3 separate regions of the Homo sapiens genome follow, and all the other regions are linked to region 1. Evidence: fine-mapped expression QTL. A gene starts in region 1. Each other region holds a variant in brackets. All regions are shown on one strand. Distances are from middle to middle.

Evidence for each region. PIP is the estimated chance that this variant, and not a neighbour inherited with it, causes the effect.
Region 2: its variant is fine-mapped to the expression of VWA5A in whole blood (TOPMed, PIP 0.92).
Region 3: its variant is fine-mapped to the expression of VWA5A in blood mononuclear cells (TOPMed, PIP 0.98).

Annotation. Positions count from the first base shown.
Region 1 is chr11:124,109,270-124,120,585 of GRCh38, forward strand. It overlaps VWA5A (von Willebrand factor A domain containing 5A), which reads left to right and starts at 6,181. Exons shown (of 19, transcript NM_001130142.2): 1 at 6,181-6,213; 2 at 7,297-7,411; 3 at 8,228-8,285; 4 at 8,404-8,606; 5 at 8,920-9,142; 6 at 9,264-9,439; 7 at 9,706-9,820. The coding sequence starts at 8,243.
Region 2 is chr11:124,140,332-124,151,647 of GRCh38, forward strand. VWA5A (von Willebrand factor A domain containing 5A) reads left to right here. Exons shown (of 19, transcript NM_001130142.2): 16 at 1,267-1,410; 17 at 2,111-2,241; 18 at 4,906-5,032; 19 at 5,535-7,390. The coding sequence ends at 5,614. Among named protein-coding and RNA genes, the nearest start is that of VWA5A, 31 kb to the left of the region's middle. The variant A/T (reference allele first, on the strand shown) is at 5,702.
Region 3 is chr11:124,159,054-124,170,369 of GRCh38, forward strand. It overlaps the pseudogene OR10D1P. Among named protein-coding and RNA genes, the nearest start is that of OR10D3, 19 kb to the right of the region's middle. The variant T/G (reference allele first, on the strand shown) is at 5,649.

The DNA.
Region 1 (11,316 bases):
TCAAAAATGAATTATGCTAATACATGGTATCAGTGATAGACAAAGTGAAATGTGAGTTACTCAGCTGTTGACTCGAAAGCAGTACAATATAAACATGACTTTCTGTAAGATAAAAATTCAAAGAAAAGGAGATCTATGAGAAATAGCTCATGAAAACGATACCATTTCAGGTTGAGATTTTATTAACCATGACTTTAAGAAATTTCTGTCCTTATAACTTCAAATATTATTTTTTAAAATTTTAAATATTTAAGTTCCTCACCATTTCTAGACCCACAACCAGACAGGTTCACAGCCATCAAAGAAATGAGGAACTGAGAATGATAATTTAAATAGTAATTTAGGGTTGCAACCATAATAGAAATAAATATAGCTTTCCTAGAAGATTCTATTCAAATCCAAACATTTGTCTAGAAAAGAGACATCATAGAATATTAAAAAGAACTTAAATCAGAGGTTTAAAGATTCAAGCTCAAGTTCTGCTACTTGGTGGTGTGACTATGGGCCAGTAATTTATATTCTCTGAGCCTCGGCTTCCCATCATTACAGAAGCAGAAAGTATTCCTTGCACCAGTAGCCTAAACCTTAACTAGGCAGCTAAAAATTATCATTCAAACTAGGACACTTTAAGAGCAAAGGGGAGCACGATTAATAATTAAGGCGGGACAATACAGGTAAAATAGGACAGTTCTTTGTGTTTCACCCACCTGTATTTTGATATCTACACTATAATTGTGCTTCTTGAATATGTGGAATGTTCTTATAATTGTGCTTGGTTTATACTAAGCACCCACTCATGTTACTATTAACTGAGATATTTATCTTACAGAATCGCTGTAAAGATTAAATATGGTGATGTTCATGAAAGAGTTTGATACCTAATAAGATGTTATATAATAGTTCATTATTATTATATTTACTGTGGGGAGTCCATATAATATATATATAAATAATGAATATGTAATATTCATTATTATTATATTTACTATGGGGAGTCCCATGCTAAAGAAGATTGGAAAACTCTTTAGCATGGGACTCCCCATAGTACATATAATAATAATGAAAATGATAGTCAATGTCTTAAGCCTGAATGATATCACTAGGAGAGATTGGTGTAGTCAAGACAAAATAGTACTGGAGGCCAAACATTGAGAAATACTACATTTTAGGAAAAGGAGAAGGAAAGGGAGTCATTTAAGAAGAAATGTACATATCCTTCAGAGAATTAGGAAGAGAACCAGAAGAATGTCTGTTATATATATATTTGTCTGCTAAAGATTATTTATTTTCTCCATGTCAAGGAATATAACCAACTAAATTTTAATTCTAAGCAACTCTGTGGGGCTTGGAATGTGATGGATGCTGAATTCATTAGTAACAACAAAAGGAAAGGAATCAAGAAATACATTCCTAAATGCTGTATGAGAAGGTGAGTGGAGGAAAAGACTCTGGCTGCCATATAGAATGAGAAAGAAGCACTTCACGGTGATTTCTTCTAACAATTCTTGCTACTCAGGTCTTTGGAGTGAGGAAAACAAGTAAAAATTAAGGAAGTTGAGGAGAAGCTCTGAATACTTACATAGTCACAAGGATCACGACCAGCTCAATTAAGGAACACAAATGTTTTTAACCCTTCTTTTGTCTTCTGTTTCTTCTATAGAGTATGGGGCTCTCCATCCCAAACATCTCATTTCTCAGCGTGCCAAGGAGTTGGGTTTGAGTTCTCCAGTTGCAGACCCCAAACGGCTTTTTCTTTTTCATTCAGAACCATACAGAAGATATTATACATCTGATGGCTGCCCTATGGCCTAGGATGACTTCCTCAGAGTTAGCGAAAGTGAAAATATCCCCTACCTTTGTGGAATTTTAAATGGTCTCATAGTCCCCTGGAGCCTCATCTATGATCTATTCTGAGACAGGGAGCAGGAGCCCTCTGAGCACAGGGATCAATTAAATGGCAGATATTGGAAGAGTTTAGGAGTTAGCAAACAGGATGCAGTAATCACGATACCCTTTAAAGGAACTGGGAATCAAAGAGCTGTGGATCCCTCCTGACCACCCTATTTTTCTGGTTTGGGTAGATATCTCATCAGTCTCTTTTGTTCTGTGCAGACTTCAGGGATTTGGCCTACCAAATCTGTCATTTTTCCAGTTTCTACCCATCCCTATACCTCTTATGGCTGTGGAAGAAATTATAACATAATGAATAGAATACTCACTTTGGAGCCAGAAGGTTCTGAGTGCGAAGAACAAGTTTGTTTCTCATTAGCTATATGTCCTTGAGCAGGTACCTGGTGCTCTTTGAGCCTTCACTTTGTGTTGTGTAAAATGCAGTTATGATAGTATTTCACAGGGTGATTTTGAGTGTTTAGATAATGCTTGTAAACTTTCTGACATACTGTGTACCCATGAGATTTATATTTCTTGAAATTGGATAAACAAAGATTTCTCACCTCTTTAATTTCATTGTTAGAATCCTTCCTTTTGCTTTTCCCCCCACTTGCTCTTTTCCTCTTTTCCTTCCCAATTTTAAGATGAGGGTTTTTTAAAAACAATGGTGGTTTTGTTTTGTTTGTTTTAACGATGAGTAATTAAAACCAAAAGATGGTGAGCAGAAAAAACTACCAAACCAAAACTAAAATAATGTTGCCAGATTTAGAAAAAGTATAAGAAATCTCAGAATCCTTTTCATGAAAGTAGCCTTTCTATGTGGAAATCTAAGTGGCATATAGTTTTCCAGATTCTCAAAATTCCGCTGGCCAACCCAACAAAAGGAAAGTGGAACTAACATTTAGAGAATGCCAACTTGTGACATATGCCTTAAAACTTATTTCATTTAATGATTACAACATACATATAGACTAGGTATTATCAGTTCATTCTACAAATGATGACATGGACTCGGAGTAGTTAAATTGCTTTCTCACAATTATACAACTATTAAGAACTAGAGGTAGGACTCAAGCCCCAGACTGAATCTAAAGCTCATAGACTTAATTATGTGACAGACCGAGGTAGATCCTGATAAATTAGAACCTGGTTTCTTGTTTTCTCTACAATTTTCCGAACCTCTGGATGAGCAATATATGTTCTTTACAAGCCCTCATAGATTTTTAGACACTTGAGCTGCATCCTGCCTATCCCCTTTGGCATTTGTCTAGGCTTTGGGTTTGTCAGGAGCATATTTGCTTGTAATCGATGAAAATTGTTACTTTTAAGCAATGGTCACTCTCATCCAAGAAATTTCTGACAAACTACTAAGTGATTTGTGATCACAGACATTATTCCTGTCTGTAATTAATGTAGTTTGACATACTATGTAAAACACTTAGCACTGGTTTCAAATAGGAACTCAATATATAGTACTATGCATATTTTTAAATTCACTCTATCTATCCATTCATTCATGATAAGTTTCTGCTGAGCCCAGGTTGTCTGTGATATCTTCAAACACTTAATTTCCAAGTTATCGGTGATCATATGAAAATTATACCTATTAATTATAATTGTTATCACCAATATGTAATAAATGCTTATAAGATTTGTGCACGTCTGAGCATTTGTTATTTGAGCTTTTGAAATCTATTCTCCAGTATCTATAGTGGATTGCAATCACAAGACCTAAGCGTATATACAACCACTGGGATTTGTATGTATTTATTCATTAAACAAATAACTTCATGACTTTTAAAAACTTACTTTCTTAAAGGTTTACAATTTTAAGAGCACATAAAGGGCTCAAGTATGATAAAAACGGCAGGAAGTTTTAGGTGAATTGCTATGGAAACATCAGAGGAGAGAGAACAAGCAGAACTGGACACTTAAAACTCCATGATGATAGAGAACATTGAAGAAAGAGAATAACAGAAATGAGACAATGACCGAAACGACTTATTGAAAGCCTGTTCTGAACCAATGCTAAGCACTCTATGACAAACAGCCTTTTTATTTCAGGAAGGGAAATGGCTCTCAGAAGAACTGAAGAAAAATAAGTAGCAAACTATGATCAACATAATCAACACACACCGGCATAATTCAGGGCACATGTGTTACAGTGGTGGGCGCTAAAATAAATTGGATATTGTTCTCATAATATGCAGATTTCTATTTCCATTATAAGCAAATGTGCTTTTCATATTCTGAAGAAGATAGTTTCCTTAAAAGTCTACTTTTTAATTAATCATAATCAAATGTATTAGGGTAAGATAAGGACCCAAAGAGCTGTTATAAACCATGGAGAAATTTGTTACTTTATCCTGTAAAATTCTGTGATGATACAGTGGCTTGCTCTATGAGAGTCTCAGGGGCTCAGGATCTTTCTGTCTTGTTGCTTCTCCATTTTTAGGGGAAATGCTCCAGGCTTTATGATCTAGTCTTTATGGTTCAAGCTGGTTCAGTTACCTGCATTCACACCAATGAGCAGGAAGAGGGTAAAGTGAATGGGAAGCCATCCTCTTTTCTTTGAAAGGGCATGACATGGTGTTGCACTTATTTCTTGTACCCTATGGGCCAGAGCTTAGTTACAAGGCCACACCAGCTTTAAGGGAGGCTAGGCAATGTTTTTATTCTGAATGGTCATAGACATTGTGAAACTTGGGGTTCCTGTTAGTATAAAAAAGAAGGTGAGAATCAACCTTGAGGAATGCCTGGCAACACTAAGACAGACTTTTAAGTGAAGATATCTCATCTATATCGGTTTAATTGTGTATATTGTGCTAGGTTATGGGAATTTTCACATAGTTGTTTTTTCAACAACCAGCAACTTCTGTGTGTTTCCTGATTCAGTGCCCTCTAACCACGCTGCATGCCTGGTCTGTGGCAGACTTTTAGTGCTAAGCTCTAAGCCCAGCAGGATCAGATGATGAACTCTGCCCACGTTTCCAGCTCCTCCCTTTTGTTGCTCAGATGTTTCGGCCAATGGAAAGAAGGCACAGTCACAAGGAACAATACCAGACATGATTTCTCTCCAGAGAAAAGGATAATTTCCTCTCATAATTAGTTCAGTACATGTAAAAAACATGGTTGTAGGGCCTAGTACTGATAAAATAGAATTTGTGCTTATATTATGCTTTACTATATATGCATATATTACATGCATGTAACTGTATATACATGCATGGGTGTACATATATACACATATATACATCTATGCATGCACATCCATGTATATAAATGTGTATGTGGGTGTATATATATAAAGTATATAAATGTGTGTGTGTGTGTGTGTGTGTGTGTATATATATATATATATATATATATATAAAACTTTTATAGCCACTAAGATTCATTAGATCTCACAAAAACAATCAGTGGAGGTTTGTCATTATCCCCGTTTCAGATGAGAGAACAAATAACTTGGGGAGAGTTATTTGTATATAACAAATATCTCACAAAAACAAGTATATAACCAGTATATAACAAGTATATCCACAAAAAATACATCACAGAGACCAAAATCAAGCTGTGTTTTCCATATGTATCATGTATTCTTTATCCTATAGATTCTCGACAGCAATATGACACTTTAAGTCTCAGATTTAATAGGTTGTTTTGAAATAGAGAAGCCATGGGGACCTTGATCGCTTCTAATGTCCTTTAGCCAGGTAAATGAGCATAGACATTCTCAGTTACTTACATCGTTAACCCAAACATTTGGTTTCAGGATCCCATAAGCGACCCATGACAGGAAGACTTGGGCTTCCCTGGCTAGAGCTTCTCTCATTAGAGCAGATGTGTGTGCCTTGCACTATCTCCTTATCTTTCCCCCTGCTGTAGGGGAGGGGCAACTTGGGGGAAAATGACTCACATTAGAGATAAGGTGTCAATGATATAATCTCCATAAAGCTTTGATTAACAGGGCCCAGGACACAGTAAGCCTTTGGCAATTAAGCTTTTACAAAAATATGCAGTTTTTAATGTCATTGTTGTTGTTCCTGTTGCAGCATTTTCCCTTGCCCTCTTTGCCTGTTCTCTGATTGTTCCTTAGCAAAGAGCAAAGAAAAAAACCAAACGTTCCAAAGTCGAAGACTTTTCCTTTGATACAAACAAGCGAAAGTTCGATTATTTGTTCAATAATTTTCCGTTGATCCCTTAGTCTTGTAGTCGCTACTTTATAACCGGTCCCTAGAAGGGGGCGGTTCTTTCCGGAAATTATGACTGCAGCTGTTTTCACTCCGCTGTGACTCAGAGCGCTCCGGGCTGCAGGAGAGGAAGGTAGGGGACCAAGCTACCGGTGCAGGGCCTGGATCCAACCCCTGCTCTGGAAGACTGAGAGCTCCACATTCTAGCTCCCTTTCCCCAGTCCCCAAATTTGTAGGGGCTCCTTGAATTGCACGCCCCATGGGTGGAGGATTTCATCCTGATGTATGATCCCCAGGAAGGTTCCTGCAAGTTTGGCAGTTTAGGGGAATCTTTTGGAGGTTGAAGGAGGGATTTAGCCATCTCCTAATCTCAAGGCCCTTCTTCCTACTTTCCTTCTCTTTTACTTTACTTTTTTTCCCGCTTTCTTTCTTTGATATAGACAATTGATGTTTTCTCAGTTTCAGGATAGTGTAAGCTGAGGAAATGAGGCTGTAAGCCTCATCTACTCCAATCAGTTGCAGCCCCTAAGCCCTTCTCTATAGAAATGTAAGAGACCGACGCAGTCTCTTCTGTAAATACGTGGACATTGGAAATCTAGGACTGAATGGAAAGGTTAAATCAATCTCTGATTTTATCCAAGCCCCACTTCTTACCCCAAATCTCCTCCTTGTCTGGTTCCGAGTTCTCCACTTCACCCCTGCCACAGGCCGCAGGGGTGTGTGTGGCCGGTGGTGCCACCCAGCTCCCCTCCCACCCTCCTAGCTGCTGAGCGGCTGGTGCTGGGACTCTGCATTCCTGAAGCAGCTACCTGGCTAGGCCGGAAGCCTTGTATTCTCCCAGCTGCCTCAGATTCATGGCTTTCAGCTTGGTGGCCAGTCTCTACCTAAGCCTTGCAAGTTGCCTTTCTGAAGTGCCATCCTGAGAGACAGAACTAATTCTGACCCAAACTAATTTTGTTTGTACTGGGAAGAGTGGGGGCAAGGGTGCAGAATAGCAAGTTTTCCTCAACGGAGGATTTGTTCTGAGCTTAGAATCAGGAAGCGAAGGCTATTTCCTTGTAGGGGTGCCCTTTGCGTCTCTCTCTCTTTTACTCTAGCCACCTTGGTGAGTATTGCCCAGCCTGAGAGCTTCTCTTTCAGCTGTTTTACTCCTGTGTGAGTCTCCTGCTTTAGGCTCTCTGCTTAATGTGTTATTAGAAATTCTTCCCTCCCCCAGCCCAGCCTGTTCTACCAGAGAACTTGCCCAGGTCAGAGGTCTGCGTAGAAGCCCTTTTCTGAGCATCCTCTCCTCTCCTCACACCTGCCACTGTCCTCTGCGTTGCTGTCGAATTGTGAGTCATTTTGCCACACTCAGTTTTTATCCAATTTCTCAAAATAAAAACAGATATGGAATGAAAAGCCTGATTTATTGGTGCTGTTTAGTGGGGGTGCAAATGTAGGCTATGTGCCTATATAATATTTAAATATATTAGAATATCTTGGATGGATACAAACAAATATACTCGTATCTTTTAATTTTGGGTCCCAAAAGAAAAGCCACAAGGTAAATGGCCTGTGGCAGGAGTCCATCTTGAATCACACAGCTTCTCACATGCAGCGCGTCTCTGAATGCCATGATCCAAAGTGAATGGTGGCAGAGGTTTATTGATTAACAGTAACAACAATAATAGGGACAATAGTGATGTCTGTCATCATTGATTAAATGCCTCCTATGGCCCATGTGCTATTGTAGGGACTTCACATGTATTAATTCACATACGATGTGTGGATATTATACTACTCATTTTGGAAAGAAAATACTGAGGCTCAGAGGGATTAGTGACACCTACTCCATATGCCCAAGGAGTGGTGAATTAAATACACTTTTGAGAAAGTGGAATTGGTATTTGAACCAGCCTCAGGGTGTTTCAGAGATTTCCTGTTTAGTAGATACCAGTGAATCTTACACCTTCCCCACCTGGGACTGCCATTTAAAAGGACCCTTATGACTGAAATCTTTGTCTCCTTTTTTTTAAAGGTTCCAACTTCCTAACTCCAACATTAACCCTTTGAATGTATTCTTATGCCAGAGAAAGGCACATAAAGTACTGGTGTTTGAACAGATAACTTCCAACATGTCCTCTGTTTGTGATATGTCTTTTCTGCAGAAATCTTGCATCACCATGGTGCACTTCTGTGGCCTACTCACCCTCCACCGGGAGCCAGGTAAGCCTAATTTGTGACTCTTACTTGCCATTGAATCTTTGGCACCTATCACAAGGCTTGATCTACAAGGAGGCAATCTATTGAAGCTTGATGAACTTGAACTCTGGTCTATCTCCAGTGCCGCTGAAGAGTATCTCTGTGAGCGTGAACATTTACGAGTTTGTGGCTGGTGTGTCTGCAACTTTGAACTACGAGAATGAGGAGAAAGTTCCTTTGGAGGCCTTCTTTGTGTTCCCCATGGATGAAGACTCTGCTGTTTACAGCTTTGAGGCCTTGGTGGATGGGAAGAAAATTGTAGCAGAATTACAAGACAAGATGAAGGTAGTAGAGATTACCTCCTCCCTTCTTATTACATTACCTCCTCCCTTCTTATTTCCTTAATGCATACTCTTTATGATCTCTACTAAATGTACCTTCACAAAACATGCTGATGTTGAAAGCTCTTTCTTCCACTCTTTTCTAACTGCCATTTTTCTAAAATCATTTGGGGAAAGAAATCAATCAGAGGCATTCAGAGTATAGCTGTGATTAGACAAGACCAATCACACAGTCGCTCTGCACTGCTCGTCTCTTTTTCAGCCATGTCACCTTGGATGTTCCCTTTCTTTCCCATCCCTCGCCCTGTGCTTCTCAGGCCCGCACCAACTATGAGAAAGCCATCTCCCAGGGCCACCAGGCCTTCTTATTGGAGGGGGACAGCAGCTCCAGGGATGTCTTCTCTTGCAATGTGGGTAACCTCCAACCTGGGTCGAAGGCGGCAGTCACCCTGAAGTATGTGCAGGAGCTGCCTCTGGAAGCAGATGGGGCTCTGCGCTTTGTGCTCCCAGCTGTCCTGAATCCTAGATACCAGTTCTCTGGTGAGTACCTCTCCCCTTTGAATTCTAGTGGTGGGTGACATAAATGGGGAAATTTTCTTAAGGTTGAGAGTGTCATAAAAAGTGTTGGCAAGGAAAACAGAACTAAGGTCATCTTTTATAGGGTCGTCTAAGGACAGTTGCCTTAATGTGAAGACTCCTATAGTCCCTGTGGAGGACCTGCCCTACACACTCAGCATGGTCGCCACCATAGATTCCCAGCATGGCATTGAGAAGGTCCAATCCAACTGCCCCTTGAGTCCTACCGAGTACCTAGGAGAGGACAAGACTTCTGCTCAGGTAGTTAATGAGAGAATACTGCTATTGTCAGTACCTCTGTTGCTTGAGTCTTGACTTGGTCCCCAACCAGTTCTTCCCAAGTGGTAACCCAGAGGGGGTCCCACATGCTCCTTGCATATCGTCATTTAATCTCCAGAGCCTTCTCTCCAGCCTCACCTCTGTTCCTAGTCATGCTGTCTTATGGAGGAGGACTGCGCCCTAACCTCAGCCCCAAGAAGCAAGAAGTTATGATTCTAATGTGGCTCCTTTACCTGTCCTCCACTCAGGTTTCCCTGGCTGCTGGACACAAGTTTGATCGGGACGTGGAACTCCTGATTTACTACAATGAGGTGCATACCCCCAGCGTGGTTTTGGAGATGGGGATGCCTAACATGAAGCCAGGTATTTTCTTTCTTCCTTTGTAGTCATCCCCTAAGGGGCAACTCCCTGTCTTGGAATTACTGTCGAATTACTCTCTTTTCTTTCCTTCCCTCCAGGGGTGGTTAATACATGTGAAACACTGAAATAGTTTACACTATGTCATGCAAAAATGGTTAGGTTTAATGACTGTCATGTGATATGTCTTGTAGGCAAATTTAAGTAGATCAGTAGATAATTGGGCAAAAGCCAGGAACAGATAATTTACAAGAGAAAACATGGCCAGTTTATAAACATGTGGCAATGATCAGTCTTGACAGACATCCAAATAATCATGTGACATTTTCACCTTTCAAATTATCAACGATTTCCAAATCTGATGCCTCATGCTTTAAAAGGTTTTCTTAAGGTTGTGAGTGTGCTAAAAAGTGAACTAACCTTTCGAGGATAAATTTGGCCATATGTGTTAAATCAATGTTAACTTTGGTAATTTCACTTTTAGAAATCTTGCCTAAGGAAGTAAATCCATATATAAGTAAAAATATGCACTGAGATGTCCCCCACCATTTTAATAATATCGAGTATTAGTAAGCAATCAAAATGTCTCTTATTGGCTAAATTTGCTATGCTAGGTATACTTCATGAGTTAATATGCAGCTACTAAAATAGTGTATATTGACAGATTGAAGTAATTGGACAAATGACCTCCAAAGAATGTTACGTAAAAGAAAAGTAAGTTATAGACAGATTACCACTATAAAATACTCTGTGCTTTAGGAAAAACATTTTAAAACACAGGAAGAATGCAAGTAGTCATTGTGATTAGATTGACTAAGTTTAATTCTTAATTAAGAAAGTTCTTAATTTCTTTTTTATCTAATACATAATTTCTATTGATTGATTCATCACAGCTACATGCAGTCTCAACTGAAGTTTTTTTCTCTTTTCGAGATATAATATATGTAACAAAATTGACCATTTTAACTGTTTTTAAGTGTACAGTTCTGTGGTCTTCAGGACATTCACCTTGTACAACCATCACCACCCTTCATCTCCAAAACTTTTTTGTTTTGCCCTAGCTTCTTAATTTCTAAGACTAAGTTTAGCTTCTTAATAACTTTAGTTTCTTAGTTTCTTTTAATGTTTATTACTTTTGAAATTTTCCTTAATGTACATGCACTCTTTCTTGGAATTTAAATTGGTGTAACCCATGTCAGTTTGCTGTGTTCTTGGGGCCTTCCTGGGCTGCCATGCTTCTGAGTTTCGGTGACACAGGACTGGAGTGCTATTGCCACTTCTGAAGCATTTACACATGGTGGAATGGACATGTCCTTGGTGACAATCATATTCAAAGTGGGACGGCTTGGCTTAGGCTCTTGTTTTTACAATTATAGCTGTTGTCAAGAAAATTCCCTGTAGTTGTTTTTCTACAGAGTACCCTACTCTCTCATTGTTAATGTTTGCTTCCAAAGTAGCTTCATACTTGAGCTCACAAATTGAACTTTTTAGTTTTCCCTCAC
Region 2 (11,316 bases), 31 kb after region 1:
AGCTGACATATAGGAAAAAAAGTAGAGAAGTCAAGAACTTAGTAGTCCAGATGAGGTCAAAGATCAGGTAAAACAGAAATCTCTAACTTAGAAAACTGAAAAAATCAGATATTATATTTTAAAACTAGGAATTTTTAAATTTTTTTTTTTGAGTCAGGATCTCACTCTGCTGCCCAGGTTGGAGTGCAGTAGTGTGATTGTAGTTCACTGCAGCCTCGATCTCTTGGGCTAAAGTGATTCTCCCACCTCAGCCTCCTGAGTAGGTAGGACTCTAGACATGCACCACCATGCCTGGCTAATTTTTAATTTTCATATTATTTAGAAATGAGGTCTCACTACATTGCCTAGGCTGGTCTCAAACTTCTGGCCTTGCGTGATCCTTCTGCCTGGGACTCTAGGCACATGTCACCGTGCCCAGATAATTTTTAAAACTTTTTATAAAGATGGGGTCTTGCTACTTTGTCCAGGCTGGTAGCAAGTTTGTAGGCTCAAGTGATCTTCCCACCTCAGCCTCCTGAAGTGTTAGGATTACAGGCATGAATCTCTGTGCCCAGCTTCAATTTATTTTCTATGAGTGGAACAATTCTGCATAATAACAAGGTCTTCATGGCTTGGGAGGAAGTGGCAGAAGTAGAATGAAGTGGAAGTCATTGGATTTGATGAAGTTGAAGAAGCTTTGCATTAGGGTATTTTATAGGCTATCTACATGGGTGATGAAATCTCAAGATGATGGTAGGCCTTTTAATGGAGTGGAAGTCTATGGTCTAGTTTTCAGATACTTTAATGAATGATCGGAAATAACAAAGAGATTGGAAGTAGACAATAGTGACGACATGTGGAAGGTAAACCGCATTTAATGATCTGGATGCAGCATCAGGGACTGAAGAGGTTGCCAACCCTACCTCCCTACTTGAAGTGTGGTACATTGAGCAACAACCATTTGAGAGTGATGGAGGGAGAATAGTTTTTTGGGAGGATAAATTCAGTTTTAAGTTGAGACTTAGCTGGCAGAAGCCTCCTGTAGTAAAACTAAAGATGCAGGAAAAATTGTTTAGCATGTGCCAGGGGTTCCAGAGGACACAGTAGAAGGAGAGCTCAGAGGGTGAGGGTTTGCGCAGGAGGTGGGCATATGAGAGAAAAATAGCACAGTAAGGGTGGTGACTGAAGCCAGTGTGGATGGGGGGGTATGTATCTTGAATTGTCACAGTCCTTTGCCCACTGCAGAGAGCAGGGAGTGCCACTGTCTTAATGTTTGGATTTTTTCAGGTTTTCGAAAGGCCTTACACTCTGACCGTCCTCCTTCTGCATCTCAGCCCAGAGGGGAACTTATGTGTTATAAGGCCAAGACATTCCAGATGGACGATTACAGTCTCTGTGGGTTGATAAGTCACAAGGACCAGCACAGTCCAGGTGAGTACCTTTATAGGAACATTTTCTCAACAATGTTTTTCTGTCACATATACAGGACTAGGCAAGCTAAAAGCTTGTAGTTACAGCTATGACAAGAGATGCATGTTTCTCGAAGGGACCCCCCATGCATTGGAAAAGATTCATTCCTCCACCCACAGAACCAGCCTGGAAACTTACCATGCAGATGAGGCAGGCCTCGGTTCACCCCTGCAATCTATAGGGACTGACAAACTAGCCTTCAATGTTCTGCTGCCTGTGGCTTTCTTTACCCAGGAGTTCATCTGTTTGAAAAGCACTGGGCAGAAGGTCAGATTTGTTCCGCCCCTATGTTTCCCAGGGTCAGCCTAGCTAGGTTCATTAGGATATCATATAGGACCTTGAAACCTGCTATCCCAGTGGAGTCTAGGGTGACCCCTAGTCGAACAAACCCCCTTGGCCATCTCAGCTCACACAGCTTGCCTGCGGGCTGCCCTCGCCCCCCAGCAGAGCCCTGCTGCCACCATCTGTGAGCCCCTGTTCCACTGGTCATCCTTTCACAAGTAGGGTTTGAAGACCGATCTTCTGGATGTTGTCTGATGACTTTCTTTCTATTGCATTCTTGCTATGGCCTGTCTCTGAATTTAGCAGCCCTAAATTCAAGTGTGCTGAGGTGCCGATAGCTCCACAATTTCTCATTCTTCTCTTTTCTTTCTCCTCAAAGGCTTTGGAGAGAATCACCTTGTGCAGCTGATTTACCACCAAAATGCAAATGGTTCCTGGGATCTGAATGAAGATCTAGCCAAGATCCTAGGTATGAGTTTGGAAGAAATAATGGCTGCACAGCCTGCCGAGGTAAGATTCAATGGAAAAAGGAGTATGTATGTTTTTGAGAGAGAGGTCATCATTGAGAATTGAGGTGATTCAGGACCTACCTGAGGAAGGAAAATATAGGGGGTCATAGACTAAATTAATTTGTAATAAATAGAGGCTGAAGGTTTTTCCAGTCATGTTAGAGCAGAAAGATCAAGGGATTAATGGGGAAGCTAGTAGGAATTGATGGGGTTTTTTTTGCTGGTGGATGACAAAGGGAAAGCAAAAATCCTCTTCCACTTTAATCGTATTCCCTGCCAATCATCTTGGTTATGTAACTAATACTTAGTGAGCAATTACTCTGTGCCAAGCACTGTGCTAAGCAGTTAATATTCATGAGCTTATTTATTTCACACATTAATTTAATAAGGTAGATCCCATTTGTGTTGCTGTTTATAGATGAAGAAACTGAAGTTCAGGGAGGTCTAAAAATGTGTCTGAGTTTACCTAGCCCATCAGTGGCAGAGCCAGATTCAGTTCTAAGAGTATCTGTCTTGAGAACCCCCAATAATAACCTCATTATTGCTCCTCTTCATACCGATGAAAGTGGTCCAGACATTGGCAAAAGTTAACTGAAGTCAGGATAGGTAAAGTGTTGTTACTAGGAACCACCTAGTTGTTTCAGATGTATTTAAATATGCTGATAAGGATAAATTGCATTCCAGAATTTCAAGGTAACTTACAAAATCTTCTAACGCTCATTGAGAAGTTGTTAGGCATGAGACAGGTGCAAAAAGCCTGAAGGACAAATATCATTCTAAACTTTCAAAATGTGGAAGGAGATCAAATAAATTTCAGATATTCTGCAATTCCACTGTCCAATACAGTATCCACTAGTCACATGTGGCTATTGTGCCTTTGAAACGTGGCTAATACAAATGAGGAACTGAATTTTTAATTCAATAGAGGTGTGCTATGGTGGGAAATACATACTAATTGCAAAGACTTTTATAAAAAGGAATAAAACATTTCATCAATAATTATTTTTATATTGATTGCATGTTAAAATGATGACTTTTTAATAGATTGGGTTAAATAAAATATATCAGTAAAATAATTATACCTCTTTTACTTTTTAAAATTTGGCTACCAGAAAATTTAAAATTACATATGTTTCTAGCATTATATTTTTATTGGAAAATGCTGTTCTAGAAAAGTAATTAAGATGATAATTCATACACACTTGGAAGAGGATACAGGGATTATTAGATGCACTGGGAACAAAAAACTTCAGACTGACATTTCCTTCTTTGGAATGGTAACCAGGCCAATGAATCAAGTGAACCAACAGACCTGGTATATCTGAATTTCAGTAAGGAATTTGATTTTTTTTTTAATGATGAGAACATGGACCAAGTACAAATTAGTTGAAAACCTATGGCGCTGAATGATGAATTGATTTCAAACATGAAACAGATTTTTAGACCCACCAGGCTCTGAATTCTCTGGAGGTCCACAGTTTCAATGAAGATTTAGATGAAGATAAAGACCAAGACTTTCCTATTTGTAGATGACAAAACTGGGAGATAAACTATCAGTCAAAAGAATCAGGATCCCAAAAAACCTCTGAACAATGAGTTGCAACTTTTCATTAAAAAAAAAGAAAAACAACATAGTAGGAATAAAAGCTAAGTACTGTTTTGGGTTCCAAATTCCCAACTCTACAGGTAGAGAAGAGAGCATTTGCACATGAAAATCAGAGGTTTTAGATGACTACAACTGTGTGAATCAGAATATTTAACTAAGAAATGGAGGACAACAGGGTTACCTGAAATGGGCTGTGATTGTAGAATTCTATAAGTACATTTACCTCCAGATAGACCATTTAAGGAGATATATTTTTAAAATCATTACGCTGTTTGTTTTTAGACTAGGAGAACAAGCGTGGGGATGCTTACTGCTTTGACATAAGCAGTCCTCTTAAGGAAGAAATGGAGGAATTGAGAATTCTAATCTGAAATAAGACCACTCAGAGAGGACATGATAGCCATTTCCAAGTTTTAAAAGTCATGATATAAAATAGGAATTTCCCTTGATCTCCTGACTCTGAAAGCTGAAGCTGGGAGCAGTGAGCGAAAACTCATGGGAGACAATTTTCTGCTGCATGGCTGAGATTTTCTATTGAGAAATAAGAGAATATAACTAGAGTCAGAATATTTGGCCTTTAGTCTCACTTCTGTCGTTTGCTAGACAGCTAAGTTTGAGCAAATCATTTTGTTAATACTTCTATATGAAATCAGTTTTCTTTCTTAAAAATGTTTATTGATATTTTTTCATGATTTCTTTGGTGGGGGGGTATAAGGGTTACAATTAAAAAAAACTTATGAAGGTTCTTTATAAACTATAAAGCAGTTTTGCCTGTGTTTCTCTTACTAGAGCTGGCCTTGTCTTAGGGGTTTCCAGAACCGTCCTGGTGGTTACACTGGATTTAAAACTTAGGATTTTCTATTTCGAGACTCAATGGATTGCTGCCCTGAGGTTTAAGGCCTGGCATTATGCCTTGCAAGTAGTATCTGGAGGTAAAGAGAGACCAGGTAACTCCATCTAGTGACATTTAGAAGGATGCTAAGTGAGGAGGGAGTGAAGCTTTTTGCATCCTTTTGAGGGACTTCCTGTGCCAACTGGAGCTCTCTATCTACTGTGCAGCTTGTGGATTCCTCAGGCTGGGCCACCATCCTGGCCGTGATCTGGCTGCACAGCAATGGTAAGGACTTGAAGTGTGAATGGGAGCTTCTGGAAAGGAAGGCCGTGGCCTGGATGCGTGCCCATGCAGGTAGGAGCACAATCCTAAGGCCTGTCTCCTTCCCCTTCCCTGGCCTGGCGGAAGGTGACCACAAGAGAGTCCCATTGTCACCTGCCTCCACCATCCTGCTTCAGATCTTTACTAATCTTTCTGCTAGTTCTTTTCTTGGGAGGACAAGGGTGAAATATTAAATTGGGGACAAGGTAGGTGGGTGAGTAGGGAGGGAGAGGGACACAAATGGGGAGTGTGAACTGTGAGAAGGACAAGTGGCATTGATTCTCCTTACTGTCTCAGTACCAAGCTGAGTAGAAGACTAGACTTGGTGCGTGTTCTCCTGGCTGTTTGTTATCTCACTGCAGCTGAGTGTATCTGGGGCCAGAGAAGATTCAAGGAGAATCTGGGTAGCAAGAAAAGAAAAAGCAGGGATATTGAGGACAGATAAAAGCACAACTCAGGGTAGATGATCTGGGAGGTTTGGAGGAGCCTCTAATTGCAATCCTTCATCCCTGCTTCTTGTTTTTCCTCACCACAGGCTCCACCATGCCTTCGGTTGTGAAAGCTGCTATTACTTTCCTGAAGTCATCTGTGGATCCTGCTATCTTTGCCTTTTGAAGATACCATCCAGAAAAAGAAGTGCCTTTAATTTGCTACTGTCATTTCCTCTAGTATCACTTTTGCTGTGATGATGTGTTCTTGTGT[A/T]TTATAACTCTTTATTTTTTGCCATAAAAGTAAAGGATGCTTACTCCACTTCGCTTCTCTGCTCCAGGTTCACTTTGGATATGATCTTTCTTTTCCCAACATATGCCCTCAGAAAAGTGACAGTGGTCCCAGAACCTATTCCCTTTCTTGAGGGAGTTCAAAACATTCATAGGCAGTAATGTTCCTCCCAGGGTTTCCAGGGAAACAACATGAAAAACAGGTGACATGAACTACAGACTAAAGATTGCAGCATTTATGTTAGAGAATGCTTGAATTAGAGAATTTTCTGCATTATCTTTGTCTGTTCACTTTCTATCTTATATACTTATCAGGGCCATACTGGTAAGCTTGCGTAGGAGGAGTTAGAGGGAAGTTGAAAGCCAACATCTGGATCAATGTAATGTCAAGATCACAAAGACAGAGACTGCAGGGGTCCACTGTGAGAGGTGACACTGTTGGGGACCTTCCTGATTCATTCTTCTTGGGCTTTGCTAGCCTGTACAACCTACATGTCTTTTCTTCCACTGCCTGAAAGACTTGGGTTGAACTATAACTGTTGGAGAGAGATGTTCCTCTTTAATCATGAAACACCTTAAGAAGTCTATAATGCAATCCTTAGTCCTACCCTGAACCTATGTGTCCTCTAAGTCAGGCCCTGATCTAGTGCAGTAAAGGGAAGGGTGGGCTTAATGGGAGCTTTGCCTGGGACCTGAACCTGGAGCACTTACCGCATTAGGAAGAAAGGAGCTCCCCGTAATCGTTCCTGACCCTTGTGTCTCATATACCCTATCCTGGTGGAAATGACCCTATTTGATATGCTGTCCCTTAAAATAACTTGTATCAATATTAAAATGACTATTTCTACCCTTTGATGAGTAAATGCAGTGGTTCTTAAAGTGGTCTCGTCTCCCTACCCCACAATATTTTGGTACTGCCACTTTGGGAAGCCAAACTAGGATAGTAAATTGACCGGAACACAGTTGTGGAAATTTGACCTGAAGTTAGTGAAATAAAACTTAGTAGGGAAAAAAAGCTTAGCAAGAGGTCTACTCCTCCATAGATTCATTTATTGAACTTACATTGGTTTTATTGTCCCTTGTTTTCTGTTCCAGCTTTTCTGATGCCTCCACTGTTCCCATGGTATCCTGACCCTCTATCTTCTGTTGTAGGCTGACTTCTTTTATATGAAGCAAGTAAAGGATACTAATAAGAATACCACTGTAGAATCCTGACCATACCCTTAAATAGTTATGTGATGATGGGCAAATGATTTCACCCTCAGGCACTTAATATCCTCATCTGTAAAACTAAGGGATTAAACTAGAACTTTATTAACACTTTCGAGTTCCACTCAGAATTCCTAGAGGAACATCGGTGACTTTTCACTCAGAAAGTGGGTGGACTAGGCCTGAGTTTCTTTAAGTTGTTGAGTTACCTGGTATTAGGAAGACTTGTGTGACTTGCATAGTGGACTCTAATCTCTCAGTCTTTCTTCCAAGTTTGTTTATGCTGAATGTGATCTGCGGAACAGGGTTGTTAGAAATGCAGCTTTTTAGAAATGCAGAATTTTAATCGATACCAGGAACTACTTTATTTAACAAGGCTCCCAGGTATCATGCATGCACATTGAAGTTTGAAAAGTAAAGGCTTAATATTTTCATGAAATAGGCTTATATCCAAGCCTGCCATCTAGATAGGCCCTACCTATGTAATTTCAGAAAATAGTTTCTTAAGGACCGTGAAACTTGTATAGTTAACCTCTGTGCACACAATGCTGTGACTTTACATTTATTATGCGGAGCGCTTATCGTTTACCTCCTTTTTTCTCACCCTTCAACTTCCAGACTGGGGCTTGTGGACTTAGTGCGGGGCGTTCTAAAACAAAAACTAAACGAACTAAAAGAAACAAAAAAAAAATTATCAACCTGTCTTTTGACCTCTTTAAAATAAGACAACTACAGTTTTAAAGTGGCGTGGTTTTATTTTTCCATTTGGGCTCCTGCACAGTGAAATGTTGTGCCAACTGTAAATTCCTCGAATCTAAACAAGTGTCAGTCTTCATAATCAGCAAATGGCATTTTGGCACATTTGTTGAAACCCCATTTCAAGTCTGATGCTTTATGTTTTGGGAAAGTATAAAGAACCATCTGTAATTTCAGAAACTGGTGGTCCAGGCAAGGAGCCCAGGAGAGAAGCTGTTCTCATCTCCCATTAGTTGCCTTTATCTAGTGCTTGTTTCCCCCACAGCAGCAGACTTGGCCACAGGAAAAGTGGCAGATACCATTCCCTCAAGATTCTTCCACTCAAACAGGCCAGGAGCTCCCCTGGAGGGTTCTCTGTTCTACACAGACTTACTAATGAAATCCATCCTCCGTCTTCCCCAACTCTAACACAGTCCCACTCAGGGTCACTGAGCATCTGCTCTTCCTCTCCCAACTCACAGCAATTCCTTCCTTAAAAACAGTCCATCTGCTTTCTGGAGTATCTGATTGACCAGGAGAAAACCAAAAAAAAAAACCCATGCAGTGAACTGTGTATTTTATCAGTTTTTACCTCATATATTTTGATATTCTCCTAAGTGCATATACATTTAAAATTATCATACATCCTTGGAAAATTGACTCTTTTATCATTATTTAATGCTCAACTTTATTCCTGATTTTTGTTGTTGTTGTTCTGAAGTTGGCTTTGTCTGAAATTTACGTAACTACTGCAGCTTTCTGCTGATTGGTTTTGGCAGGGTGTATCTTTCTCCATCCCTTCACTTTTAGCCTATATGAGTCTTTTTATTTAAAGTGGATTTTTGGAAACAACATGTGGTTGGGTCTTATTTATTTGTTTTTGTTTGCTTTTAATCCACTCTGGCAATCACTACTTTTAAATTATCGACCCATATCATCTATATTTAGAGTAATTATTGATAAAATTAGGTTAATATCTACCATGTTTGTCAACTGTTTACTATTTATTGCATTTTTTTCTTTTATTTTTTCATTTTTGCCTTTTCTCACTTTAACCAGGCATTTTGTGTGATTTCATTTTATCTCCACTCAATATATCCATCATATTTCTTAAGAATTTTTTTAGTTTTAGCTCTGGGGTTTGCAATATGCATTTATCACTAATTTAAGCCCACCTTCAAGTTACACTATATCACTTTACATGTAGTGCAGTTACCTTATAACAGAGTATTCCTAATTCCTTCCCATCCACTATGACATTGCTGCCATTCATGTCACTTATGTCTATATTTTAACTACCTAATTGTTACTATCATAACTTTAAACAGTTATCTTTCAGATCGATTAATAAGAAAATGAAAATACATATTTCACTTTTATTTATTTCTTCCTGACATTTCCTTTCTTTGCATAGATCTGAGTTTCTTACCTGTATCCTTTTTCTTCTTCCGGAAGAATTTGTCTTAAAACTTCTTGTAGAACAGATCTGTGGGCAATGGATTCCCTTAGTTTTTCTTTTTGTCTGGGAAAGTCCTTATTTCTTCTTCACTTTTGAAGCATAATTGTGCTGAACTTATAGCTCCGTGTGTGTGTGTGTATGTGTGTGTGTGTGTGTCTATTTTTTTTTGAGACAGATTCTCGCTCTGTCACCCAGGCTGGAGTGCAATGGCGTGATCTCGGCTCACTGCAACTTCCACCTCCTGGGTTCAAGTGATTCTCCTGCCTCAGCCTCCCGAGTAGCTGGGACTACAGGCACATGCCACCACACCTGGCTAATTTTTTTTATTTTTAGTAGAGACGGGGTTTCACTGTGTTAGCCAGAATGATCTCGATCTCCTGACCTTGTGATCCACCTACCTTGGCCTCCCAAAGTGCTAGGATTACAGGCATGAGCCACTGCGTCCAGTCGTCTTGTCTTTTAACACTTTAAATATTTTACTTCAATCTCTTTTAGCATGAATAGTTTTTGGCAAGAAATATGCTGTTATTCTTTTTCCTCTATAGGTAAAGTGTTCTCCCCCTCCTGCCCCGCAGACTTTTGGGATTTTCTCTTTGTCTTTGGTTTTCTGCAGTTTGAATATTATATTTGTAAATGTAGGGCCTTTTGTATTTATCCTTTTGGTGTTATTTGAACATTCTGAATCTGTAATTTTGTGCTTTTCATTAATTTTGGAAAATTTTTGCTATAACTTCAACTATTTTTCTGCTTAGTTTTTTCTTGTATTTCAATTGCATGTTACACTGTTTGAAATTATCCTGTAAGTTTTGAATGTTCTGCTCTGTTTTTCCTATGTGTTTGTTTTTTATTTTGTTTTTGTTTATATCTTTACATTTAAGTTTAGGAAGTTTCTATTGGTCTATCTTCCATTCCAGAGATTCTTTATATAGCCATGTGAATGTGTGTTTGTTTTTTATTTGGTTTTTGTTTTTATCTTTACATTTAAGTTTAGGAAGTTTCTATTTGTCTATATTCCATCCCAAAGATTCTCTTCCAGGTTTGTAAATGTCAGCAGTGACTCTGAAGTCACCTGTCTCTCAGGATTTCAGAATGACTATTTACCTGTGTTCTCAGTTTCTAAAGGGTACAGATAAATGAGTTTTGTATTATTCCATTCTTGCATTGCTATAAAAAGAAAACCTGAGACTGGGTAATTTATAAATAAAAGGTTTAATTGGTTCACAGTTTGGCAGGCTATACCAGAAGCATAGCAGCTTTTGGGGAGGCCTCGGGAAACTTAGAATCATGATGGAAGGCAAAGCAGCTGGTGTCTTCATGTGGCCAAAGCAGGAAGACGAGAAAGAGGAAGGAGGTGCTACCCACTTTTAAACAACCAGGACTCGTGAGAACTCTGTCGCAAGAACAGCACCAAATGGGGAAATCCACCCCCATCATCCAATCACCTCCCACCAGGCCTACCTCCCACACTGGGATTACAATTCGACCTGAGATTTGGGTGGGGACACAAATCCAAACCATATCATGTTTGTTCAGCTTTTTCTTGTGGTAATGGTGAGAGTGATGGTTTCCAAACTCTTTGCATGTTATAGTTGAAACTGGCCTCCATGTAGTCTGATCTACCAAATCTCCACACTTCACTGACCCTTCATTTACAGAACTGTACTTTTTGGAATTTCAGAGGTAGAAAACATTCTTTTTTCTATTGTGGTCTATCCAAAGTTAAAAGTTTGGGTTTGTTTGTTTTGCACATAAACCAGTTTTTATTACTAAGTGATGTAACAAACAGACATCCTTAATGGTGAGATATGAAAATGAGGTGAGGTGTGGGGAAGAATTCAGTAATGCAGTGAGGGTCAATAAATAGACAGAGTCTCAGGTAGGGATGAGGGTATAATGTTAGGCAATTCTTCTTAAATAATAATAAGCATAGTCATAAAGCTGAAAGTGGAATTGTATAGAAATATAGTCAGGCTTACTTTTAAATATATATATATTTAAAAGTATATATATATACTTTGTCAGCGATCAAGCTCTATATAGACTTTAGAATCCATGCCTTTTTTAGTCTTTATTTCACTTTAAAAAAAAAACAGCTTAGTGAAGTGTAGTTTATGTACTGTGAAATCCATTCACTCACTTTAATTCTTTTTTGAGGTACTGTAATTAACAGTTTAACATTCAGTGGATTTTTAGGG
Region 3 (11,316 bases), 50 kb after region 1:
ATCCTCACCTCCTACAGTGGCATCGTCTTCTCCATCTTGTAGATCTGCTCTGCCGAGGGCCGACGCCGTGCCTTCTCCACCTGCAGCGCCCACCTCACCGCCATCCTGCTTTTTTACATGCCAGTGGTCCTCATTTACCTGAGGCCTACCCACAGCCTGTGGTTGGATGCAACTGTTCAAATTCTGAATAACCTGGTCACCCCCATGCTGAACCCCTTAATCTACAGTCTCAGGAATAAGGAGGTGAAATTATCACTAAGGAAGGTCTTATATCAGCTGGGCTTCCTTCCTGAGCAGTTGTAGAGAGAAATAAGTAACTAGCGCTTCAACCACACTTCATAGCTTATAACCATTTTTATTTAGTTGTCACACATATTTTTGAAATTGAGGGCACAGGTATTATTATTTCCATTTTACAGTGTGGAGACTAAAACTCAAAGTAACTTGTCCAAGGACATGTAAGCTGTGAATGGCAGAATGAGGACTCTAGAGCTGGTTTTGTGACTCTGGGGCCTGTGCTCTTTTGAGGAAATCATACTGCTTGAGAGGGAGGGAGAGAGAGAGAGAGAGATTGAGAGAAACTCTTCTCAGTAGGCAGAACAGCTTGGAGCTTCTGCTTCTCAATCTGTATTTTCTTCATCCTCCTACATCCCCTCCTCCTCTTCATTTCCCTCACACCATGACATTTATTCATCTTGACTACAGTGACTATATCCTCAAATGCCTGCATTGGATAAGCCCTCATTTTTATGCATCTACAAGTTGTTAAAAATGTTATTCAGTCAAAAAGGAATGAAGAATGCCTCCTACAATGTGGATGAACTTGAAAATCTAATCCTCAGTGGAAAAAAAAGCCAGACACAATAGGTCACATATTGTGTGATTCCATTCCTGTTAAATATCCAGAGCAGGTAAATCCATTAAAACAGAGGAAATTGACCTTTTTTTTTTTTTTTAGTTTGACTGTGGGGTGATGAAAATGTTTCGGAACTAGGTAGAGGTGATGATTGCACAACTCTGTGAATGTGCTATGTACAACGTGAATGTGAATGTACAAAATTCCACTGATCTGTTCACTTTAAAATAGTTCATTTTTTGTTATGTAAATTTTACCTCAATTTAAAAAATCATTCTCTCAAAAAAAGAAAAGAAAAGAAAAACAAAAAGTGTTTTTTTGTTGTTGTTGTTGGTGGTGGTGGTGGCGGTGCATCCCAATTTATTTAAACAGCATCCTGTTATTTCTGAACCATAAGGAGGTTGTATAAAGAGAAAGGCATCTGGCTGGGACTTGAGGCAGTCTCTTATGGGTAAAGCAGAGATACTAGTGTGCTGTATCACTTCCAAACCCTGCCTGCCAGGCTTAGACCTGGAAACAGGCCCTGGGTGTGAAGAAGCAGCATGTGAATGAGATGCGAAGGTAGGTAGGGGAATCCAAACAGGGGCAACTGTACTGTGATCCCACGTTAGAAAGGCTGGCTTTGGGCAGGGCACGGTGGCTTACATCTGTAATCCTAGCACTTTGGGAGGCCAAGGTGGGTAGATCACCTGATGTCAGGAGTTCGAGACCAGCCTGGCCAACATGATGAAACCCCATCTCTACTAAAATACAAAAATTAGCTGGTCATGATGGCGGGTGCCTGTAGTCCCAGCTACTCGGGAGGCTGAGACGGGAGAATCCGTTGAACCCGGGAGACAGTGGTTGCAGTGAGCCAAGATCACGCCACTGCACTCCAGCCTGAGTGACTGAGTGAGACTCCATCTCGAAAAAAAAATAAAAGAAAGTCTTGCTCAGTACAACGAAGAGGCAATGCTGGGTCCAAGATGTCATTGTTTGGTGTCTTTGCCTTCTCTGTTGACTAAAAGGGTTCGATTTTGGACCCCCTCTTACATTTCTTTATTTTTTGACTGAAATATGCCAATAATGAGAAATGAGCTATTGTTTTCATAACTGAATTCATTGAGAATCCTATCACACTGGGGAAATATGTTGCTGTGAAGTTTGCTCTAACAGGGCTGTAAAGAGGATGATGGAAGAGGAGAGGGCAGAAGCAGAGACTAGTGCTTTTTCCCCACCTGCACTTCTTAGAATTAGAGAGCAGTAAAGAAACGGCCAGAACAAATGAGCAACACTGTATCCATGGCTCCAGCCAGTGGGTGAGCCTGCACAGCTCCTGGAAGGGAGACAAACGTTTGCCTGGTCACTACGCAAACTCCTAAAAACCTCTTTCGGTGCTGTTTCCCCCTTGTTTTCCAGTAAACAAGAGCCTAAAAGGGAAGCTAGAAATACATCTCAAATTATTTCAAATTTATTCCAAATCGCAAGCCCTTGTCAAGCCTCTTTGAGTCCACTCTGAAGATCCCTTCCCATGCCTCAGTGTACTGGTGTAGCTGCACAGTCAGTAAAAACAGACAAATTTGTAAAGATAAAAGATGAGATCTGATTCCTTTTCAAATCTTCACTCATTCAGAGTTGTTTGATGAATAACTCTGTGCAAGGGCGAGGAATGCAAAATGAAAAAGATATGACCCCAGCTGCACAGAAATCAGAGTCTGCTGGAGAAACAGACATACAGCTAACTAGAACGTCCCATCATTAAGCTATGATCAAGATGTACAATACAGCAGAAAATCTGGAGTGCATTTTCCTCATTTGAAGAAAGGACCTTACAGAAAAGGTGTTGAAGATTGAAAATGTTGTGTTGTTTTTTCCGTATTAAGAATGGCTGAGGAGTATTTTCCAGGGAGAGGCAACATACTTCTCAGTCTTTATATGTGCAGGGAGAGCAGTGAGAGATTATTTGGGCAGGTATCACTTAACTATTTGCCATTTGTGACTAAATGCCTTTGCAGGAAAAAATAAAATTTAGTGTGCCTTCTGTTTTCAGGGTTCTTCTCCAGCTCAGTTCTTTGTTCATTGGACTTGATGTCTTGAATAAAAAAACTATATCCCTATCTCCTTAAACAAGTTGACTTCTCTGCTTGTCCCAGCCGTTCTGAGAGATGCTGTTCTTAGGTCTCCAGGTAGTGTCTGAGTTCTCTTTCCACCTAAGCAGGAGCCTAGAATGCCAGCCCCAACCTGGAGGCGTGCAGGCCCAAGTTGGGTGTGAGGGTGAGCTGAGATTTTTCTGTGTTCTATAATCTAAGGGGTAGTGTGAGAAGAACTTGAGAAAAACTGTGAAAGGGAAAACCTCAAACCAGGTAGACAATCCAGAAGAATATTTAACCCACAGGGGCAAAGCAAGACAAAAAAATCAAGTGTCGAGACCAGGGAGGCCAGAGAAGAACAAGAATATTGAAGCGGAGGATCAGAGGATGTTTTGAGCAGAACAGGCTCCAGCATAGCCTTTCCTGAGACAGTGGGTTCAAGCATGGTCTAAGAGGGGCATCCAGGACCTGATGCCAAGTGGATTCTAGTTTCTTTAAAGGCTTCTTTGTTCTCCCCCAATTTTTTTTTTTGCAAGACACTCCTGTATTCTCCAGTCACTGTTCCTTTTTGCTCTTTTCTAATTTTTTTTACGAAACTGATGCCTGTTCTGAGTTTCATTTAGGTGTTTTGTTTTACATATAGTCCCAAGAGCACAAAACTATGATGGGAGCATCCAAAGTGAAAACTTATGATGTGGACACTAAAAGTGAAGCTAAGGTGATGGCCGCTGACATGGCAGGGGAGGATTGTGAAGAGGAGTTTTCAAAGGAGTGTTCACAGGTGTTGGGACCTGTTCTGTTTATTTCCTGCCCTCTCAAGTCCCCTGCTGGTTTGTTCTAAATCAAATTGATTGAAATGAATGAATAACCAGTCAGAAATCATGTTTTCGGTCACTAAATTTGCAATTACTTTTGGTCAAGGATACTGACTCCACCTTTGCAAAAATAACTAGTCAAGCTAAGAGAATAGCATTATTACATTATATGTTGTATTGGTTCACTTAGGGTAAGAGGGGCAATAATACTTGTTATTGTTGGAGTGCTACATTGGTGAGAAACAATTGAGCCTACTATATATCATTCCTTTATTTTACATTCTGTTTAAAATTATTATTTTAATTACTGTTTTGCTAATAACCTATAATAATGATACCATCAAAAAGCCATTCTTTATTGTCCTGTTGGATGTCTGTTTTTAAAAAATATTTTTATTAAATATTAAACATTTAGAAAATAATACTCATGAAAAATATGTAAAATATAAGGAACTGTGATACAATGATACAATGAACACATGCATCCCATTACCTAGTATAAAAAAAAAGAGTAATGCTAGTGCCTTGGAAGTTCTCCGTAGACCTTGGCCTGATCACACATCCTTCTTTCTCTCTAGAAGTTATCATTCTCTAGAGTTTTGTGTGTATTATTCCCTTGATGTTATTTGCATTTCACCTGCTATGTCTGTGTCCCTAAACACCTATGTTTGTAACCCTTCTTTGCAAAGCTTTGAACTTTTATTAATACAATTCAACTGAAATTGGCTTTTTTCACTTAAATATTACATATATATTTCAATTTCCTCCCCTTTTATTTTCAGTTGACACACAATAATTTTACATTTATGGGATACAGAGTGATTTTCAATATGTGTGCACAACGTGTAATGATCCAATCAGGGTAATTAGCATATCCATCACCTCAAACATTTATCATTTCTTTGTGTTGTGAACTTTCAAAATCCTCTCTTCTAGCTTTTTGAAAGCATATCGTAAATTATTGTTGACCATATTTACCCTATTGTGCTGTAGAACACTAGAACTTCTCCCTCCCATCTAGCTGTAACTTTATATCTATCAACCAACCTTTTCTTATCCTACATTTTCCCTTCCCCTTCCAAGCCTCTAATAACCACAATTTAGGATCCCTTAACACATAAAGAAACTCTCTGAAGGTAACTTCTAGAATAGGCTGAGGAGATGTGGACAGAGGTCCTAAGAAATATGGTCATAATTCATTCACATCCTAACGTAGTATCTTTCCACAATGCAAACCACATACTACTACTCTGTTTCTTTTGGATCTTCAATAATTGTTTGTTGCATATAGGTTGAATTAAAACAATTCAGTACCTTATCTGCAGAATTAATAATCAAAACAAACCTATCTCTTTAGTTTCCTCAAAGCCATAAGTTCCCCCAGCAACACCCCATCTCTCTTCTTCTTGCCATTCAGTGTTTAACATAATATGTATTAAATAGATACTGGTTTATTGAAAGAACAAATCAATGTATGAATAAAAATATGAAGTGGTATATTTAAACACTGGAGTTACAAAGATCTGTGTGTCTTATTCTTATGAAGCTCATAGCTAAGGATGGGAGGCAGATATAGAAATAATTAAAATAATATGTGATAAATATTTAATGAAAGTATATAAAATTTAGAAAAGCAAAATGAAGGCAGAAATGATTAATTCTGTGCAGATTTTAGAGAAGACCTAAAAACATTTAAAATAGATTCATTCACAGTTCTGTGACTTAATACTTTCTTTTTTTTTTTTTTTTGAGACGGAGTCTCGCTCTTTCGCCCAGGCCGGACTGCAGTGGCGCTATCTCAGCTCACTGCAACCTCCGCTTCCTGGGTTCACGCCATTCTCCTGCCTCAGCCTCCCGAGTAGCTGGGACTACAGGTGCCCACCACCGCGCCTGGCTACTTTTTTGTAT[T/G]TTTAGTAGAGATGGGGTTTCACCGTGTTAGCCAGGATGGTCTCGATCTCCTGACCTCGTGATCTGCCCGCCTCGGCCTCCCAAAATGCTGGGATTACAGGCGTGAGCCACCGCACCCGGCCCTTAATACATTTTAATGTCCCCTCTTCGTATGCCCTTCCCTGATTCCTCTGCTGGACAAACTTCTACTCATCCTTCAACATCCAAGCTGACAAGTCATTTTCTTTAAAATTTTCCCATCTTAGACATATTTTTTTTTCTGTGTTTTAGTTTTATATCATGGCATAAAACATTATCTTACTACGTCAAAATAAGGTTGGCAACATGACTTTTAACAGTTAACTAGAGGCAGAGAGGTAAAGAAAATAAGACAGATGAGTAGTCACAGTTCAGAACTGTCCAAACCTTCATTTGTTGAATAAATAAATGAAAGAATGGTTTGTGGAAACATTTCATTGATGATCAGCACCTCAGTCTATACATTTATTAGATGTTATTAAATGTCTTCTAGGAACAGACTCATGCTGTACTTTGAGAATACTAATGTTTATGCTGACAGAGGTAACAGAATCCGACATACATGATTTGAATTTCATCTTAACATGTATGAACTTATGATTTTAACATGTTACTTAGCTAATTTAAATTGTTGTATTGTAATTTTGTAAAATAGTAATATTTAAACCTACTTTAATGGTGAGGATTGACTTAGTTTTTTTTTAAACACTTAATATTGTATCTTGAATATAAAAAAGATTTGATAAGTATGTTACCTTCCCGTCTTTTTTTTAAACTTTTTTAAGTAAAAAAATAAAAATAAACAGTAACAGCAAATCAGTGTTCATGGTAAAATGATTTATATTCCTTTGGGTATACACCCAGTAATGAGATTGCTGGGTCAAATGGTACTTCTGTTTTAACTCTTTGAGGAATCATCACACTGCTTTCCACAATGGTCTAACTAATTTATACTTTCACCAACAGTGTATAAGCATTACCTTTTCTCAGCAATCTTGCCAGCATCTATTATTTTTTCACATTTTAATAATAGCCATTCTGGTGTGAGATGGTGTCTCATGGTGGTTTTGATTTGCATTTCTCTAATGATCATTGATATTGAGTTGTTCTTCGTATGCTTGTTGATTACATGTATATCTTCTTCTGAAAACTGTTCATGTCCTTTGTCCACTTTTTAATGGGGTTGTTTGTTTTTTCTTGTACATTTGTTTGTTCCTTATAGATGTTGGATATTAGACCTTTGTCAGATAAATAGTTTGCAAAAAAACTTTCCCATTCTGTAGGTTGTCTGTTTACTTTGTTGGTGTGTGTGTGTATATATATATATATATATATATATATATATACACACACACACACACACACACACACACCTATATATATATACACACACATATACCTATATATACACATATATATACCTATATACACACACACATATATATACCTATATACACACACACATATATATACCTATATATATACACATATATATACCTATATATATATACACATATATATACCTATATATATAAACACACACACACACACATATATACATATATATATATATATATTGCGGTGCAGAAGCTCTTTAGTTTAATTAGATCCCATTTGTCAGTTTTTGCTTTTGTTGTGATTGCTTTTGACATCTTTATCATGAAATCTTTGCTCATGTCTGTGATCAGAATGGTATTGTCTGGGTTGTCTTTCAGGGTTTTTATAGTTTTGGGTTTCACATTTAAATTTTTAATTCATCTTGAGTTGATTTTTGTATATGGTGCAAGGAAGAGATTCAATTTCAATCTTCTGCATATGGGTAGCCAGTTATCTCAGCATCATTTATTGAAAACGGAGTCCTTTCCCCATTGCTTGTTTTTGTCACCTTTGTCAAAGATCAGATGGTTTTAGGTGTGTGGCTTTATTTCTGGGTTCTCTATTCTGTTCTATTGGTTTATGTGTCTTTTTCTGTACCAGTACCATGCTGTTTTGGTTACTGTACCCATGTAGTTTCACGTCTGGTAACATGATGCCTCCAGCTGTGTTCTTTTTGCTAAGGATTGCCTTAGCTATTCAGGCTCTTTTTTGGTTCCATATGCATTTTAAAATAGTTTTCCTCTAATTCTGTGAAGACGTCATTGGTAGTTTAGTAGGAATAGCATTGAATCTGTAAATTGCTTTGGGCAATATGGCCATTTTAATGATATTAATTCTTCCTATATATGAGCATGGAATGTTTTTCCTTTTGTTTGTGTCATCTCTGACTTCTTTGAGCAGTGTTTTGTAATTCATGTTTTAGAACTCTTTCCCCTCCCTGGTTAGCTATATTCCTAGGTATTTTATTCTTTTTGGGGCAGTTGTAAATGGAGTTGTGTTCCTGATTTGGCTCTCAGCTTGGGCGTTGTTGATGTATAGGAATGCTAATGATTTTTGTACATTGATTTTGTATCCTGAAACTTTGCTGATGTTGTTTATCAGCTGAAGGAGATTTTGGGCTGAGATTATGAGGTTTTCTAGATATACAATCATGTTGTCTGCAAACAGGGATAGTTTGACGTCTTCTCTTTCTAGTCAGATGCCCTTTATTTCTTTATCTTGCCTGATTGCTCAAGCCAGGGCTTCCAATACTATGTTAAATAGGAATGTCGAGAGAGGACATCCTTGCCTTGTGCTGATTTTCAAGGGGAATGCTTCTAGCTTTTGCCCATTCAGTATGATGTTGGCAGTGAGTTCGTCATAGATGGCTCTTATTATTTTGAGGTATGCTCCTTCTACCGTAAAGACATATGCTTGTGAATGTTCATTGCAGCACTATTCATGATAGCAAAGACATGGAATCAACCTAAATGCCTATCAGTGACAGATTGGATAAAGAAAATGTGGCACATATACACCATGTAATGTGATGCAGCCATAAAAAAAGAATGAGATCATGTCTTGTGGAGGAACATGGGTGGAACTGGAGGCCATTATTTTTAGCAAATTAACACAAGAACAAAAAACCAAGTATCACACATCATCACTTATAAGTGGGAGCTAAATGACAAGAACTCATGGACACAAAGAGGAGAACAACAGACACTGGGGCCCTTTTGAGGATGGAGGCTGACCAGAGGAGGGAGAAGATCAGAAAAAGTAACCATCTGATGTGGCAGCACTGCTCATATGGGGGCACCAGCTGTGGCGGGGTCTGTCCCTTGCAGGCCCCTGACCCAGCAACGGATGAATGAAGTACACTGACACACAGATATTCTGCTTTGCCTGTCCAGCTGAGTGTGTCCAAGCTGCTTACAGACTCCCTGCTGAGTCCTGTAAACAGTTGCGACTCGGCCTGATCAGCTAGTGAGACTCGCATTTATTCAGTAAGATTAATTAACAAAGGCTTGAGTCAACACCATTAGAGGGTATTGACATTGTGGACTTCCCTAGTAGAAAGCACGTAAGCACCCGGGATACATCAAAGTTTAGTCTTAGATCACAGAGTAGTTAGGTAAACTGCTCTGCCTTCCTTTGTTACTACTTTAATTTGTTTAGCTAAAGGTAAAGGGACCAGGTTGCCTTCAGTCAGATCTATTACCAAAGTTATGCAAACTTCTCAGCCTTCCAAGAAGATTTGTGTCTATCTCTATAACTATCTCTAATATTTTTCCCACCAGCTTGATTGAACCCCAACAATCTGGTACTAGGCTTAGTACCTGGGTGGCAAAATAATCTGTACAACAAGTCCCCATGGCAAGAGTACCTATATAACAAACCTACACATGTACCCCTGAACCTAAAATAGATAAAATAAAATAAAAAAATAAAGAAAATCAGCATTCAACTTATAAACTTTTTCTTTGGAAACAACTCTTCAAGAATACTAGTGACAGTGTTTAAGAATGTGCTAGGCTTTGCGGTCAGACAGATCTGACTTTAAGTTTCCACAAAGTCACTGATCATTTTTGTGGCCTTAGACAGGTCCTTTGAGTACAGTCTTGTCAAATGTCTTACAAGGACAATAAAAGTACTTAACTCATACGGTTATTGTGAAGATAAAATTATGTTATCCATGCAAAGAGCTTAGTGCAGAAATTAGCATGTAGTACAAAATTAATGTGTTAGCCAGTCAGGCTTCATAAAACAAACAGAACCAATAGAAAAAAAATATATAAAATAAGATGATAAGGAATTGGCTCACATGACTATGGAGGCTGAAAAGTCCCAAGACCTGCAGTTGGCAAGTGGAGGCCCAGTACAGCTGATTGTGTAAGTTCAGTCTGAATCCAAAGGCCTGAGCACCAGGAGACACAATGATGTAAGTTTTAGCCTGAGGGCAGAAGTCCCATGTTTCAGATCAATCAGTCAAAGTACCAAAGTTGTATCTTTCTTAGTGTTTTTGTTCTACTCAGGCCTTCAACTGATTGGATGAGGGTCACCCATGTTAGGGAGGGCAATCTGCTTTACTCAGTCTACTCATTCAAATGTCAATCTCATAAAAAACATCTCCACAAACACACCCAGAATAATGTTTAACCAAATATTTGGCCATTCAGTGTCCAGTCAAGTTGACACATAATATCAACCACCATAACCAGTATCGAATCTTGAATATAATTTTTTATATAAGCCTTCATTTTAATTTCAAATACTCACTTTATATGTTATTTTGTACTTATGCAATGTGTTGGGTTGAAGCAAAATTGGATGAGACTCTGTTTCCCATTATAGTTCTCAGAATTACTTTTCCTTCAAATGAAGTTACTGAAATGCTGAACCTTTGAACATGTGACCCCACAAAAGTAATAGATATTGTAATTACACAGTCTGTGTCAACCCATTGTATATTTGGCCTTTAGCTATGCTAACAAATTATAGGTAGATATAAACAGAGACTTAGTAAGAAAAAAAAAAAAGCAGCGAAAAAGACCCTGTTCTCAATTTGCCTCAAATCCTCAGGAAACATGAGAAATGACAAGTGTTACTGGTAAATACTACCGGAAATTAAGAATTTCTCAAAACAATTTAACACAACAATACAAGATTAAAGGTTACATTGGATTAAATAGGACTTAGATTAGATGAGCAAACTGATAGGTTTATTAAAATTATAACCATCAGGAAATGTTTGAAATACCAAAAAAAAAAACGTAAAATTTTGTTGTGGTAACTAAGATTTATAGAGCATTTCCCATGCTGTGAACACTATGCTTAGTCCCTTACAATCTTATCTCATCTGGGTCTTATAATAACCCTATTGTGTCCGGAATTGGTGGGCTCTTGGTCTCACTGACTTCAAGAATGAAGCCGTGGACCCTTGCGGTGAGTGTTAACAGCTCTTAAGGTGGTGCCTCTGGAGTTTGTTCCTTCTGATGTTCGGATGTGTTCGGAGTTTCTTCCTCCTGGTGGGCTCGTGGTCTTGCTGGCTTCAGGAGTGAAGCTGCAGACCTTCGCGGTGAGTGTTACAGCTCATAAAAGCAGTGTGGACCCAAAGAGTAAGCAGTAGCAAGATTTATTGCAAAGAGCAGAAGAACAAAGCTTCCACAGTGTGGAAGGGGACCCCAGCAGCTTGCCACTGCTGGCTCAGGCAGCCTGGTTTTATTCTCTTATCTGGCCCCACCCACATCCTGCTGATTGGTAGAGCCTAGTGGTCTGTTTTGACAGGGCGCTG